2 separate regions of the Homo sapiens genome follow, and region 1 is linked to region 2. The links come from fine-mapping of genetic effects on gene expression. Tissue or cell type: prefrontal cortex. Region 2 holds a variant in brackets; the other region holds the start of a gene. All regions are shown on one strand. Distances are from middle to middle.

Region 1 (8,104 bases), 69 kb after region 2:
TGAGACTCCATCTCAAAGAAAATTAAAAATTAAAAATAAATAAATAAATAAGTGGAAACAGAAGGACACAAAAAGGGGAAAGTAAATCGCCCACATGCCCTACACCAACAACTGACCTGTTGGCATTTTATGTTTTCCTCTAGTATCTTTATAAGTATATATGTGTGTACTTTTTAACAAATTGGAATTATATGCCATATACTACTTTATATAATAGCATTTTCATCTTCACGTCATTGCATATTACTGGAAAACACCATTTTTTAACGGAGACTCCAATTTTTGAGTCCTATGGGCCTTAAGTCGTATCACATAGCTAGCATTTTAGACCTCACTGGTTAAACATGGGCAAGCTACAAACTAAATTTAAAGCATTTTTAAACTGTAAATATTATACATATGCATTGTAGAAAGTTTGGGGGAAAAAAAGATATAAGGAAGAAGATAATCACCTATAATCCCACCACTCAGAGAAACTTCTTTTTACATTTTGGTGTAGCAAGAATAGATTTGAGACCACTGAGGTCATACTGTTCATGTATACTGATTACATTTCTGTATCTTGATGTTTTTCACTTAGTATTTGTATCAGCTAAATTTTAGTACTTTGTTGTACTTATTGTCAATATCCTTTTTATGATGAGAGAATTTTTCACAGCTAGAGCCAATGTTTCGATGAGCATTTTGACAAGAAAGACAGAAATGCCCCATTTAACAAATTTTGACATGAAGTTGCTCTGCAGTAGTTCATAGAACTTCTCAAACCTTCCCCTAATAACTTTATGCCAAGCACAAACTTTCTTTGATATCTGTTTTACCTAAATATGTGACTTAAAAAATTACCACAGAAATACGTGTTTATTTTAAAAAGAACCAGTACCAAAGATGAAAAAGTAAAACTTGAATCCCCCATCACATGCCCTGCATTTTCACTGCCCTTAGTTTGTTGTTTATTCTTCCAGACTTTTCTGGCACAAACACATAGATACAGCTTTGGTAGTCATGCAAATAGGGCTACTTGCTTTCTTCATCTAACTTATTCTGTTAACACTTATAGATCAACCTTGTTTGGTAATAGGTTCAGCATTATTCTATGCTGTGGAGTGTCATAATTTATTAAACCAACTTCCGTGTTTGGATACATAGGGTATATCCAGTTTTTACTTTTAAAATACTGCTTCATTAACTCAATTAAAAATGGACAAAAGGACCTTCATACATTGCTGGTGGGAAGGTAAAGTGGGGTAGCCGTTTTCCAATGGTGCAGCTGTGGAAAACGGTTTGGCAGTTATTCAAAACTTAAATATACAGCTGTTACCATAAGACCCCGCAATCCTACTTCTAGATATATACCCAGGATACTTGAAAATGTATGTTCACTGGCTGGGCGTGGTGGCTCATGCCTGTAATCCCAGTACTTTGGAAGGCCCAGGCGGGTAGATCACCTGAGGTCAGCCTGGGCAACATGGTGAAACCCCATATCTACTATACAAAAATTAGCCAGGCGTGGTGGCAGGTGCCTGTAATCCCAGCTACTTGGGAGGCTGAGACATGAGAACTGCTTGAACTTGGGGGATGGAGGTTGCAGTGAGCCAAGATCGCGCCACTGAAATCCAGCCTGGGCAATGCAGTGAGACTCCGTCTCAGAACAAAAAAAAAGAAAATATATGTTCACATAAAAATGTACATACTAATTTTCATGGCAGCATTATTAGCCAAAAGTGAAAGCAACCCAAGTGTCCACCAACCGACAAATGAAAAACAAAATGTCTATCCCTCCAGTAGACTGCTATTCAGCAATAAAAAAGAATGACGTTCTGACACATGCTACAACATGGTCAAACCTTAAAAACGCTATCCTATGACAGAAGCCAGACACAAAAGGCCACATATTGTATGATTTATTTATATGAAGTGTACAGGATCAGCAAATCCATAGAGACATGAAGCAGATGAGTAGTTGCGAGGTGGAGGGAAGAGAGAATAAGGGGGAAGGAGGGAGCTGAGAGTGAGTGGCTGCTTAAGGGGTATGGGATTTCTTTTTCGGGGTGATGAAAATACTCTGGAGTCAGTGGCAATGGTTGCAAATCCTTGTAAATAAACTTAAAAAACACTGAAATATATGTTTTAAAATGATGGGTTTTAAAACATGAAACAAAACGTGGACATCATATCTCAATAAATTTTTTTTTTTTTTTTTTTAGACAGAGTCTTGCTCTGTCGCCCAGGTTGGAGTGCAGTGGCGCAATCTCGGCTCACTGTAAGCTCCGCCTCCCAGGTTCATGCCATTCTCCTGCCTCAGCCTCCCAAATATCTGGGAATACAGGCGCCCGCCACCTCACCCGGCTAATTTCTTGTATTTTTAGTAGAGATGGGGTTTCACCGTGTTAACCAGGATGCTCTCAATCTCCTGACCTCATGATCTGCCCGCCTCAGCCTCCCAAAGTGCTGGGATTACAGGCATGAGCCACCGCGCCCAGCCCAAAGATTATTTTTAAAATGGACAAAAGGCTTGTGTAGTCACTTCACAAATGAGGATACTTATATGGTCAATAAACATATAAAAAGGTGCTCATTATCATTAGTCATCATAGAAATACAAAGTAAAACTACGATGTGATACAACTACTTAGCCATCAGAAAACCTAAAAAGCCTGACAACACAAAGTGTGGGCAAGGATGCAGAGACTGGAACTGCCTTTCTCTGCTAGTGGGAGTATAAGTCGGTATAACCACTGTAGAAAACTGGTTGGTAGGAGCTACTAAAGTGAAACGGATATAGTCTATGACCAGGCAATTCTACTCGTGCATACATACACCACAGAAAATAATGCTTATTTCCTTAAAAAAAAAAAAAAAAAAAAAAAAAAAAAAAAAAAAAAAACATAAATGTCATAGCAGCTATTCATAGAAGGCCTAAACTTGAAAGACCCAAATGTTCACCAGTCACAGACGAAACTGTGAAATGAGCATAGAATAAAAAATAACTGATACACACAATGTGGATGTATCTCAGACTTACAACTAAAAACCTCTTTCTAACCCCATAAGCTGTACTCAGAGGCTTATGTTGCCATGTGTCACCTGGATCAAATTTTAAAACTGACTTAGTGATTTTAAGTATGCTTAATCTCTTTCCTGATGCCAATATTAATGTAAAAAATATTGAAATATTTCAATTTGAAATATTTGAAATTTACTATTTCAAAATAAATTCATGTGTATTGTAGAAAAATTAGATTCTACGGATTAACAACAACAAAACCCCTCACCCATGCTCCCACCGCACAGAAAGACCTGCTAACACTGTGCCCTGTACTCATCTGGATGCTTTTCTGAGCATTTCAAAAGCTGGAGTATTTTAACCGAATGTCAGCATGCACATACCTTCCAGAGTCAGCACTGGGAGCCACAGAGCAGATGGTGAGAGGTGAGGACCAGCGCGCAGCTTGAGGTGTGAAGCACGTCTCCCACTGGCTAATCTCCTTATCTTCTCTGGAGTGCTGCTCAGCTTGCTTCCTTCCTCCACAGCACTTCCATGCTCCCTGCTGGGCACGCACTGCCATCTGCATCCCTCACTCACCCCTGGAACCTGCCCAGCCCCTCTGTGGAGGGAGGCCTTGGCAGGTTTGACCTCTGTGTCTGCGCCCACTCACTGAGCAGCCCTCACATTCACCTGGGCCACATGTTCTTAACATTTCTCTATTTTGGTCTCCTTGCCACTGTCAGCTTTGTAGAACTGATCAAGACTGTGGGATGAGTGCCTCCCTTTCCCCATTTTTCCACACATAAACTCCTCAGCCTCCACAGGTCTCCCTGTCCCCAAACATGACCTACTTTTTCCCATGGTTGACTCCCCACCACACACACACAGTCCTCCAACGGGACTTTGCTCCTTCAGTTCTCTTCCCACCTCATCAGCAGTAGGATGAAGGCAGGGATGAGGAGGATGTGGCACCTGCCCTCTGGGGCTCACAGGCCTACAGAGGAAATGGGCAGCATTTCTGGCTTCCAGTCCAGGGTAAGTGCTATAAAACAGGCATAAATCCTGAGTTATGGAAGCCGAAAACCAACAGTGATGGCTCCTCATGGTGTGGGGAAGGTCTAGAAAGGGCATGGAGGCCGCAGCTCAGGATCAGAAACCCTGCCAATTCTCTGCCAAGTAGCCCCTCATTCTGACAGTGTGGAAGCGCCCTGGAGACACAGCCTAAGCCAGCACTTATGACATATTTACTTCTTCTCTAAACATTTTAATATACTTTAAATGAGATATTATGAATCTATAAAGATTCTAGCATCTTTCAGTATGACCGTAAAGAAAGGCATACAACTTGTACACTTAAGAGACATGTCATCTCCTCGCAATGAAAGAATCTGACCCAATTCATTTGGTAATTAATTTTATTGATTAAAGTATTACAAAGTTCTACTTTTCATTTTTTCATGTACAATGTATTGAAATGAACTAAACTCAATCACTTATAATATAAAAAGACATTATTATGTATTAGCAGGGTGATGCTTCATAATCATGTATTATTCCTACCTCTAAGACACCAGTCTGTATTATAGAATCACAGCTGTCACCTGTGACTGTCAGAAACAGAAGGTGCAATTGGGATTCTTAGGTTGGTGACAGAATAGCACTGGATCCACAGGCCAGAGACTAGGAGTGCTTATCAAATGAGGTTTTAGGCTCTGAAAGGAAGGAATGAGAAGGTGTGCCGGGACAAGGAATAGCCAGTTCCCATAAAACTTGGGAAACGTAGATTTCTCAAAAGTAGGGTCCGACACAATTTTTTAGTTACTTTTTGAGAAAATTTAAAAATAAATACATTGAAATGCTGATTAGAGAGCGAAAGTAATTTAGGTTGCTTTTTCAATCTGAGGTTGTTTTAAAAAAGTTATTGTATGAAAGGTATTAAAAAATAAAAAAATTATGGTGAATATGTTGGCAGGTAAGATTTGAAGTTCTTTCAGAGAAGATAAACGGCATGGCAATTAAGCTTTAATAATATATTAGTTTTAAATAGATATACATATAAAAATACTTCAAATGATTCATCTCGGATTGAACACTCTTAAAAATTAAAAGGGTCAGCCGGGCGCGGTGGCACACGCCTGTAATCCTAGCACTTTGGGAGGCTGAGGTGGGCGGATCACGAGGTCAAGAGATCGAGGCCATCCTGGCCAACATGGTGAAACCTGTCTCCACTAAAAATACAAAAATTAGCTGGGCGTGGTGGCAGGTGCCTGTAGTCCCAGCTACTCAGGAGGCTGAGGCAGGAGAATTGTTTGAACCCAGGAAGCGGAGGTTGCAATAAGCCGAGATCATGCCACTACACTCCAGCCTGGCGATAGAGCGAGACTCCGGAGTCTCAAAAAAAAAAAAAAAAAAAAATTTAGAAGGGTCTAAAATAAACATTTTTAAATGCAGGGCATTTTCAGTAAAAAGAGTTCATGAAAACCTTCTGTCCCCAGCAGGCATGGGGCAAGAGAACTTTTGGCAGGTCACGGTGGCCAAACGGGATTTTTTCCTGGAAGACTCAGCACTAGAATCCACTTGCAGCTTTGTAAATGTACTCAGGTTTCACATGAACCTTAGAAAACTTGGAAGCCACTGTGTCCCCAGATCTCACTCCCTCCTGGTAGAGCCCTGCCACAAGACAGAACAGATCAAGAGGCACGTGGAAGAAAATATGAGCCCTCCAGGAATTTCAGTGAAAACCAGCTGAGATTCGAGAGTGAGACATGGCTTTTCCAAATACAGCTGGTGTGTGTGAATTCTTACAAAATTACAGGAGCAGCATTGTCACTGTGAGTGAGAGATGATGTGGTCCATTTGAGAAAAGTCTGTTTTCTTCCTTAAATCACATTCCAATTTCCACTGCCAATTAATAAAACACATCCCTCATATTGAACCTTCACTTAGCTTTTGAAGAAAAAGTGCATTGACTTTTTCTCCTGCTATAACCTATTCAGAAAGCCTAGCTTGAAACTGCTGGGGATCTGAATCATTTCCAGAGCATGTGGAGAGGGGGTAAAAGGAAATGTGACTTGAAAGAGATATTTGGTATCCAACATCAGCTGTGATGAATCCTCCCGGCTATTTAGGAGAGCCTGAAATTAGAATCAGAGGAAAAATGAGTAAGGAAACTAACATGTTCTGCTTTACTGCTACCTGAAAGTCAAGGCAAAACACAGCTATCTCTAGTGGAGAGCTCCTTGCACCATCACATGAAATGACATACATGAGAACTTTTTAACAACAGCACAATTCCAAAGTCTATCCAGGGCTTCCAGATCAGCTCTCAGAACAATTAACTTGTCCTGTTTCACTTCAGAAGTTAATTTCCCATGGGATGAGTTGACCATAAATCTGTTTTCTATTCTAATCTATTCTCATGGCATAATTCTAAGGTCAAACATGAGTAGATTTCAAGTATTACATTTTTATTGAACCCATCTTTCTTCTTCATTCATGGGTTTGCAACCTTTTTGGTCTCAGGACCGCTTTATACTAAAACATGACTGAGGCCCCAAAAGCTTTTGTGTATATGGGTATATTGGCATTTGCCATATTAGTAATTAAATATACATTGTGTATATGTGTATATCGGTATTTGCCATATTAGTAATTAAAATGATTTATTAATTCATTAAAATAAGCTCTACACATGTTAAACATAAGTTTCCAAAACAAAGAAAATTTAGTGAGAAGTGGTATTTTCTATTTTTGCAAATCTCTTTCATGTCTGACTTAATATATTATCATATATAACCATATATTATATACGCCATATTTTAATATATATGCTATATTATCATATATACGATATATCATATATATCTGCTTCTGCATTCAATCTGTTGTGATATGTTATTTTGGTTGAAGTACACGAAGAAAATCCACAGATAACTATTGAGAAAATCCACAGATACCTACTTAGAAAATCCACAGGTACATATTTAGAAAAAGGAAGAGTTTTGCAGACCCTCTTGAAAGTGTCTCAAGGACTCCCAGGGATCCTTGAGCCAAACTTGGAGAACTGCTGCCCTAGAGTTCCTTAGGGGACAAACTTTAGGGATTATATAAGAAAAAATGGTTATACAAATGATTATAAAAGAAAAATGGTCTCTGTTTCCATTCAGCCTCTGCCCACTTGCACAGTATTCAACGATCAGTAAGAAATAAGATATATTGACAGAATACAGCACGGGAGACATGATTTTGGTGCTTTCATTCCCCTCCCACCTGGACTAAGGTGGATTCTGAAAATTTCACAGGAAAATTTCCTGCTTACCTTTGAGCTGGGTGCCTTTCATTTGTATATGTGGGTAAATGTACTTTAATCCTGGATTTCTATAATGTTAATTAAGTATCAACATCTTATACCATAGTTAGGAAGTAAAATTAAAAGGCACATCCTTAAGAATCTCACCTGTACTTTGCGAACAAAGGATGGAGTCACTCTCTTCTCAAAGTCATCTATAGGTGTGTATGAATTAAGGATCTTTATGATCTGCAAACGGTACATAACATGGTGTTAGACCATGCAAAATAATAACTCTGTTCATAAAATAATGGTTCTGGTTATTGGGAACCATTGGGAAGCACAGGTGGTTCTTTTAGCCTATAATTTGGTTCAGGAACTGTATGTTACCTATTTCCAAGAAAAGAAAACAAGGGGAGAAAAGTGCCTTAGGGAGCAAAGGCAAATCAGATAATCAGAAAACAGTAAGAGGAGCCCCCTTCTAGCCTCCCCACCTCCCACATGGCCACCCCTCCACATACACATTTGTGAGTTTAATGGGCAGGGAATGAATGCATCATAGACATTTGTGTATATGTGTGTGTGTGATTATTATTATTATTATTTTTGAGATAGGGTCTCCCTTTATTGCCCAGGCTGGGGTGCAGTGGCATGATCATGGCTCACTGCAGCCTCGAACCCCTGGACTCATGCGATCCTCCCGCCTCAGCCTCCCAAGTAGCTGGGACCAAAGGTGTGTGCCATCACACCCAGCTTTTTTTTTTTTTTTTTTTTTTTTTTTTTTTTGGTAGAGCGTCTTGTTATGTTGCCCAGACTAGTCTCAAACTCCT
Region 2 (8,104 bases):
CTCAGTCTTAATTTCTAATACAATAAATATGGATAGATACAATCCACAATGAGCAAGTTATTTGGGGTCCTCAATAACTTTTAAGGGTGTAGGCTGGGCACGGTGGCTTACACCTGTAATCCCAGCACTTTGGGAGGCCAAGGTGGGAGGATCACCTGAGGTTGGGAGTTCGAGACCAGTGTGACCAACATGGAGAAACCTGGTCTCTACTAAAAATACAAAATTAGCCGGGCGTGGTGGTGCATGCCTTGTAATCCCAGCTACTCGGGAGGCTGAGGCAGGAGAATCGCTTGAACCCAGGAGGCGGAGGTTGAAGTGAGCCCGAGATCGCGCCACTGCACTCCAGCCTGGGCAACAAGAGCAAAACTCCACGTAAAAAAAAAAAAAAAAAAAAAGTGTACAGAGATCCTAAGACCAAAAAGTTTGAGAACCACTAGCCCAGACGAAGCTCTAACTGATGAGAATTACTAATTTGCTATATGAGTGGGGGCTGCCTATGGATGGGGAGGAGATGGGGAGAAAAGAAAGAGCTGGGGGAAGGGGAATGGGGAGGAGATGGGGAGAAAAGGAAGTGCTGGGGGAAGGGGAATGGGAAGGGAGGAGGAGGGAGGGAGAAACAGCAGAAGGGGAAGGAAGGAGACCAGGAGAGAGGTGGAACAGGGAGACAGAGGAAGAGGAGATGAGGAATGGGGGAAGATTGAGAAGGGTTAGAAAAAGGAGTCCGGATGAATGAGGAGAGGGGGAGGGGGCAGAGAAGAGGAAAGAGGAGATAGGAAGGAGAGAGGAGGCGATGGGAGGGAGGGAGGAGGTGATGAGAGGGAGGGAGGAGGGGTGACAGGAGGAAGGGAGGAGGAGATGGGAGGGAGGAGGAGATGGGAGGGAGGAGGAGATGGGAGGGAGGAGGAGATGGGAGGGAGGAGATGGGAGGGAGGAGGAGGAGATGGGAGGGAGGGAGGAGGAGATGGGAGGGAGGGAGGGGGAAATGGGAGAGAGGGAGGAGAGAGGGAGGAGGAGGGGAAGGGAAGAGAAAGAGGGAAGATAGGTGGAGGGAGAAGGGAGGGGGGCAAATAGGAAGGGGACTGAGGAGGACACAGGGAGAAGCTGGGAACTAACCCTTCCTGAAGATGTGCTAAAGGCTGAGGTAGGCACTTTACATATTTTAGTCCCATCCCATGTTACAAATGGGGAAACTGAGGCTGAGAAAAACTCAGATATTATCATATATTCTGTGACCGTGACAGAGGTGGGTGTGAATGAAGGCCAGCCCTCTTATGTCACCAAGGCATCCCTCTAACTCACAGAGGAGTCCCAGTATCGGTGGTGCCACCTTTCAGCCAGCTGGCCTGGCAACTATGAGAGCCCGGGACACAAAGGCCCTTACAACCCTGTGCTGTTTTAAGCCACTTATAACCTAGAGAAGGGTGCAAAGGAGGTAGAAGAGCGGGAAGAGGGCAGTGGCAACGGGATGCCCACCTCTGGCTCGCCTGGGAGAAGAGGGACGGCTGCCAGGGCCCCACCGGTGAGAGGCTGACCGCGCATTCTAAAGCACTGGACTTGGCTTCATGTCACAGATATTTCCCATAAATACCCATCACCCACACCTTTCTGCCTGAACTTTCTTTTTTCTGGCCCAGGAGGGGGCTGCCCAAGGCTCTACACCCCTGGGGGCCCATCTGTTTGGCCCCTTCACCACAATTGGTTTGGTAGGTTTATCCCCAAGTCCTCTGGAAAAAAGAAAAGCTGATTATAAAATGCACTCAGCATTATTTTCAATCTGCAAAATACAATCTATCCCATGGAGCTTACCCCTGAGTCTCCACATGCTGTCACATAGTCCAAATCAAGTATCTCATCAGCAAATCCCGACAGCACCCACTGCGAGAGCGCATGCTCACAGCGAAGGAGGCTTCCTGCCCATGCGGGGAGTGGAAGCATTCTCTGGAATACTTTCCCTGGGCCCTTAAAGTGGCTTTTTGGATTGGAAAGTCACAGTCTACTTTGCACATATCCTGAAGATGCTCTCCACCTCTCCAAACATGGAACCTGGAATGTGCTTCCCTGGGCCACCTTTCCTTCCTTTCTCGTGCCTTCCTGCACTTCTGGGAGCCGGAAGGCACAGTGCAGAGACAAAAAAAAAAATGGCTGTGGGAGAGAGGGTTGGGGATGCCACCACAAGGAGGCCAGCTGCACCAGGGGCCACTGTGGGACATTCTGGAGCAGAGCTCAGGAATCCCATGGTGCCCTGACCCCTTCAGCACCTGGCAGGAGCTGGCCAGACACTGGGCCCATTTCCTGAGCCCCTGCCCAGACTGGAATCTACTGGGACTAAAAAGCACTCTCTCTGGGCTCCCTGGAGGAAGGCAGAGGCCCTTCATTTTTCTCTCTCTACCCCAGACCCCAGTGTACAATAAAACCACCAGTAACTGCTCTGCAAATGATCAAATATAATTATTATGTTTATTTGAAGTGAGATGATGGAAAAGATGGCCTGGCTGATTTTGGACCGAGTGGCCCATCACGATACCTGAACAAGCAGTTGTGAGGGTGGGCCTGGCACACCCCTGGATGTTTACAGGAGCATCTGGTCCAGTCCTGTCTTATGGCTGTGCCCAGCTCCAGCTCTGGAAGAGTCTCTCTGAGGAGCAGGGCCTGGAGCTGGGCCTGCAAAGCCAGAGCTACCACTAGAAGAAGGGCTGGGCTGGAGCAGGGCCAGGAAAGGAGACCTGTCCAGGGGACAAGGTGCACGCAGCCTTCAGGTGCAGCCAGAACCTGCCGGCAGACCCCAGGCCACCGACGAGGCAGGCCTCACCAGGAATGACACCTGGTGTCTGAGGTGACCTTTTATTCCCCTAGGTGCATGCCATCTTTTTAAGTGAGAAGTTTTCTAAAGCAAAGAATAAGCATCTACATCTTACAAAAAAACAAAAAAAGGAAAAGAAGGGATCCTATAACAAAAAGCACTTCCTTCTTCTAGAAGGAATTCTGAGTCTCAAATAAAGAGAAGATCTTCTTTTAATATCGTTTTTCTATGTAAGAGGAGCAGACGTTATTATTCATGACTATCAATCAATCTGCATATGTAATTATAATTGCAATGCAATACATATGAATATAATTTTTTTTTTTTTTTGAGACGGAGTCTCGCTTTGTCACCCAGGCTGCAGTGGCTCGACCTCGGCTCACTGCAAGCTCCACCTCCCGGGTTCACGCCATTCTCCTGCCTCAGCCTCTCCGAGTAGCTGGGACTACAGGCGCCCGCCACCACGCCCGGCTAATTTTTTGTATTTTTTAGTAGAGACAGGGTTTCACCGTGGTCTCGAACTCCTGACCTCGTGATCCGCCCGCCTCGGCCTCCCAAAGTGCTGGGATTACAAGCGTGAGCCACCGCGCCCGGCCATGAATATAATTTATATGGACAAGATTCACTTTAACCTAAGTGTTTCCACTAATTCTACTAATAGGTTTTTAAATAAGTTTACTATCTTGTGTTCCCACACAGAAGACTTTTCTTTGCTCTCAGAAGCATTTGTTTACAAACACCATTGGCTTTCCCTTCAATTCAGAGAAAACGCCCTGTCCAAGTGGCACAGTGACATCATCATCATCCATGAGTCAAACCACCTGTCCTTTTTAGGCATTTCTCTGCGTCATTTACAGCAGTTCACCATAGACAAAAATGTTGTATCTGAAAAAAGACAATAGAACAGGAAGCTGAAAAAGATACTTTTACAATAAAAACACATTCTAAAAAAATGATTTTTGTCTAATTACATTTGGAATTGGAATTTGCTTCTATCACAGACCAGTCACCAGTCCTCAGTCCATAAAATCAGCACTTCCAGAGGAAGGTTCCAGGCATCACAGTGCACATCGAGAAATATCAGACTTTAAAGTGCTCTGAAAATGAATTGATTCAAAGAAATAATATGGAATATATTAACTGCTGAATTCTACTGGTGACAGAATGAGTTGAGGCTACTATAATTTAGAATAACCTTAAAAACAGATACATTTTAAAAAGTGTTCCAAAAGAAAAATACTGTACTTGAAGGTATTCTCGCAGTGCTGAAGGCTCACACTAGTGTATTTCCAGAGGTGACAGTTTTAATAGTCATATTGGAGACGCTTAGTGACCTGTGAGCCATGGGTTGCTCCCCTAAGCTACACTGCAATAAACTCTAAGCTCCTCTAGAAGTAATATCTATTTACATGTGAAGATTTCAAATTCTCAGGTATACATGAGTGCACTGTCAGAAGATGATTAGGCCCAGACCTGTGAAGACACAAACAGATAGTTTTTAGACCTTTGTAGTTAACAACTTATAAAACTTGAGCTTAAAGAGATAAAATTAGTCTATTCACACACATGCATGGGCATACATATATGTGTGTGTACACACACACACACACAAACATACACACTCCATCCAAAATAGGGTGCTCATGTGCCTTAGAAGGATAACACTGTACTCCTAGCAATGCAAAGGTGCTTCTTTGGACCTGATCTTCTCCTCCCTTAGTTAATTGTCTGTGGGGCATCTGCAGCCTCCTTACGGGCCTAGCTACTCTTCCAGATTGACAACCAAAACCATTTGAACCCATACAGCTCACCATATACATTAACATGACTACTCACTTAGGACACTCTTACCCAGGAAGATGAACTCACAGATAACTTTTTTATTTGTTTCAGGAATTTTGCAAAAATCCTTTTCTCTATCCTAACACTAGACTACTCAACTTACCCTCTTTAGAAAACACACCCATGTCTCAGGACAATATAGAGCATCAAATGACTATTTAGTTTTAAAGGGTTTGTTCGAAACCCTCCCCCACCCCTGCATCCAGCAATCCTAAAACTATTATGCCACAAAGTTGTCCAATCCTAATTAAGTGCCCCCCAACAAAGACCTGCCTTAAACCAGACCAAAAAAACCTCATGCATGCCTTTGTCATCCTCTTCTGAGATGCCACTACACCTCTACCAATTCTTGATGTTCCACACTGAGGTAAGCAATAAATTTAGCTTTGCTCTATGAATGGGCTA[CT/C]TTTTTTTTTTTTTTTTGAGACAGAGTCTTGCTCTGTTGCCCAGCCTGGAGTGCAGTGGGATGATCTTGGCTCACTGCAACCTCTGCCTCCTGGGTTCAAGCGATTCTCCAGCCTCAGCCTCCCGAGTAGCCGGGACTACAGGTGCATGCCACCACGCCTGGCTGATTTTTGTATTTTTAGTAGAGACAGGGTTTCACCATGTTGCCCAGGCTGGTCTGGAACTCCTGACCTCAAGTGATCCGCCTGACTTGGCCTCCCAAAGTGCTACAATTACAGGCATAAGCCACCATGCCCAGCTTAAACAGGCTATTTTGGTAGTATTTTGGGTGAGCCAACACTCAACAAGGTTATGGAGCTCTCTTTGAGAATTTAATGAAAGCCACGAGGACAAAAGGCATACACCCCAAATTTGGCATATAATTTCAGGGGCTTCATTTCCAAGATTAAGCTATAGAAAAACCAAAAAAAAAAAAAAAAAAAAAAGGAAGAAAAAAGTAATAATTTCAGGGGCTTCACAGCCTCCTGGATTTGTGACCCTTGTCATCACAAGGTCAATAATCGTAATAAGAACCCTATACTATAGGAGGAGAGACTGGTTATCTGTGGTTTGCCAAAGGCTAGAATCACAAGAATCAGACTTTTAGGGTCAAAAGGAACTTTCTGGATGATCAAGCCTAACTATTCCCTCACCTACAGGCTGATACGCAGTTGTCGAATCTGTGCGAGAATACCTGCACTGATGCAGCACTCGCTACCTCTCCAGGCAACCCATTCCCTCTGTGGCTGTGGGCAGAGTGGAAATGAGAGCTCGGCGAGGCTGACCAGGCCCACCTGAGCTTACTCTGATAGCCTTCCCTCTGCTTCAGAAGGCCTGTCACCAGTCCTCTCTCCTCTCACACACAGGAAAACAGAAAACCATCCCTCTTACTCTGAGGGTATGATCCCATGATCCAGAGCAGAAAGCAGTCCCATCGGGGGAAACTCGTAGAGTGCTAACGCGGTTTTCATGTCCAAACAGGATGGAGACCCGGGACCCTTTGAGAACATCCCAGACGTTGATAGTGTAATCATTGTATCCAGCAAACAGCAGGCGACCTTGAAGCAGGGTGAGATGATAGCTGTTAAGCCAGTTCCTTGCTTCCTGTTTCTCATTACATGACTGTTACTCACTCATTCAGTAAGCAGTGATTCAGGCGCACTGAGTCCTAGGCACTGTGCTTTGCCTCAAGGATTCAAAGGGGAGAAAGCACAGTCCCTGTCCCTGTTGGAGGATGTGGGGCTGAAAGGAACAGATCACTGTAGCATCCCATGGTAACAGCCATAATGCAAGTGCTTTACACACGTAAAGTGCTATGGGACCAGAGAGGAAGGGGGATTAAGGAGGGCACTGCAGACACAAGTAAATTATTTTTAGTCATTTGCTAGTTAACAACTTGTAAAACTTGTTTAAAGAGAGAAAGTTAAAGTGACATTTGAGTTGGCTCTTGAGGGTTGAATCGGAGTCTGTCATGCAGAGAAGGCAGGGAAAAGATGTTCCAGGCAGTAGCAGGAACTTCACGTGCAGTTAGTCTAGGGATGTGTCTGGGGAAATGGAGTGGTCCAGGTAGCCAGCCTGTTACCTCTGCTTTAACTTTCTATTTTTCTTTCTTTTTTTGACATGATCCTTCTGGAGCTATGCTTTTTCACCAGCAGCTTCCCACAAAGGAGCCATGAGCTTCAAGGCACTGAGAAGGGACTCATTTTTTTTTTCCCTTTGAGTCAGAGTCTCGCTCTGTTGCCCAGGGTGGAGTGCAGTGGCACGATCTCAGCTCACTGCAAGCTCCATTTTCCAGGTTCAAGCGATTCTCCTGCCTCAGCCTCCTGAGTAGCTGGGATTACAGGCATGCGCCACCATGCCCAACCAATTTTTGTATTTTTATTAGAGACAAGGTTTCACCATGTTGGCCAGGCTGGTTTTGAACTCCTGACCTCAAGTGATCGCCTGTCTCGGCCTCCCAAAGTGCTGGGATTACAGGCGTGAGCCACAGTATCCCACCAAGAAGGGACTCTTGCTTCACCTCCACCTTACAGAAAAGTTCCCTTTGGGGCATGAAGAGAAGCAAAGGCTGGGGAGAAAATGCCTGAGAGCATTGTGGAAGTGAATTTCTGACACTTCATTGCCTTGAAGGACAGCATTAGGTGGGTACACAGCCTTCATTTCCCCCTGGAGTGAAGTTGCCTGGGGCAGGACAAAGTGGGAGGTCAGAAGCTCAGAGGAGGAAAACTGGTGCAAATATGGATGATTTCGCATACTGGTCCACAGGAAGCTCAGTTGATGAAAAGGAACTGAGCGATGATGGAGCGCTAGTTTCATTCTGGTCCTGTCTTACAGTCCTGGGAAAAGTTTCTGAAATAAAATCTTACCACTGAGGGAGAAGTCCACGCTGGATGCTCCAAATATGATGCTTTCTTTGGAATAGATGGCAACCTCCCTATCTGCCCGCAGGTCATAGAGGCGACACTGGGGAGCAAATAAATAAAGAAGCACTTACTTCTGGCTTCAGTTTGGTGACGTGATGACCACAGAGCTACAGGTAGGTGCTAGTGACTTGCGTAGTTTAAAAGATGAAGGAAAAACTTCTTAGTTTTCCCTACTGTTATTTCATCCTTTAGTCCCGACTCCTGTTAATTTCTATGAGTCAGTAAAGAGTCCTGATTCCTATTAATCTCTATGAGTCAGTAAAGAAACGGCAAATACAGCAAATTTCTTCAGGTATAAAAACAAAATGAGACCCCACTTTTTTTTCTGATAAAGGACACATGTTCACTGTAGAAAATTTGGAAATATTCAAAAATGTAAACAGAAGGAAATGAAGGTCACCCTAAATCCTAGAGGTATTTACTAATTCTCAGCTGTTTCCTTCAGTCTTATTTGTATTTTATGTGTGTATCTGAATGGGTTGGATGTTTCATTATTGCTTTTATTAACATTAGGTTATACGTCCTTTCTCATATCATTAAAAGAGAACTTCAAAAAACATTATGTACATAGTTATTGAATATATCAGAATCTATT

Direction of the effects. Positions count from the first base shown, and alleles are read on the strand shown. Sizes are in standard deviations (SD) of each study's normalised expression.
For the expression in prefrontal cortex of the gene that starts at base 3,458 in region 1, CT is the low allele of the variant in region 2 and C is the other (moderate effect, 0.54 SD a copy in ROSMAP).

The links. PIP is the estimated chance that this variant, and not a neighbour inherited with it, causes the effect.
Region 1: it holds the start of GNB5, and the variant in region 2 is fine-mapped to the expression of GNB5 in prefrontal cortex (ROSMAP, PIP 0.95).

What each region holds. Positions count from the first base shown.
Region 1 is chr15:52,187,935-52,196,038 of GRCh38, forward strand. GNB5 (G protein subunit beta 5) reads right to left here and starts at 3,458. Exons shown (of 13, transcript NM_016194.4): 1 at 3,388-3,458. MYO5C (myosin VC) reads right to left here. Exons shown (of 41, transcript NM_018728.4): 40 at 7,443-7,523; 41 at 4,388-6,120. The coding sequence ends at 5,968. All of the region lies in intron 2 of CERNA1 (competing endogenous lncRNA 1 for miR-4707-5p and miR-4767), which reads left to right. RefSeq lists an enhancer at 3,556-4,055.
Region 2 is chr15:52,118,496-52,126,599 of GRCh38, forward strand. It overlaps GNB5 (G protein subunit beta 5), which reads right to left. Exons shown (of 13, transcript NM_016194.4): 11 at 7,453-7,549; 12 at 5,978-6,144; 13 at 1-4,273. The coding sequence ends at 4,262. Among named protein-coding and RNA genes, the nearest start is that of BCL2L10, 9.8 kb to the left of the region's middle. The variant CT/C (reference allele first, on the strand shown) is at 5,048.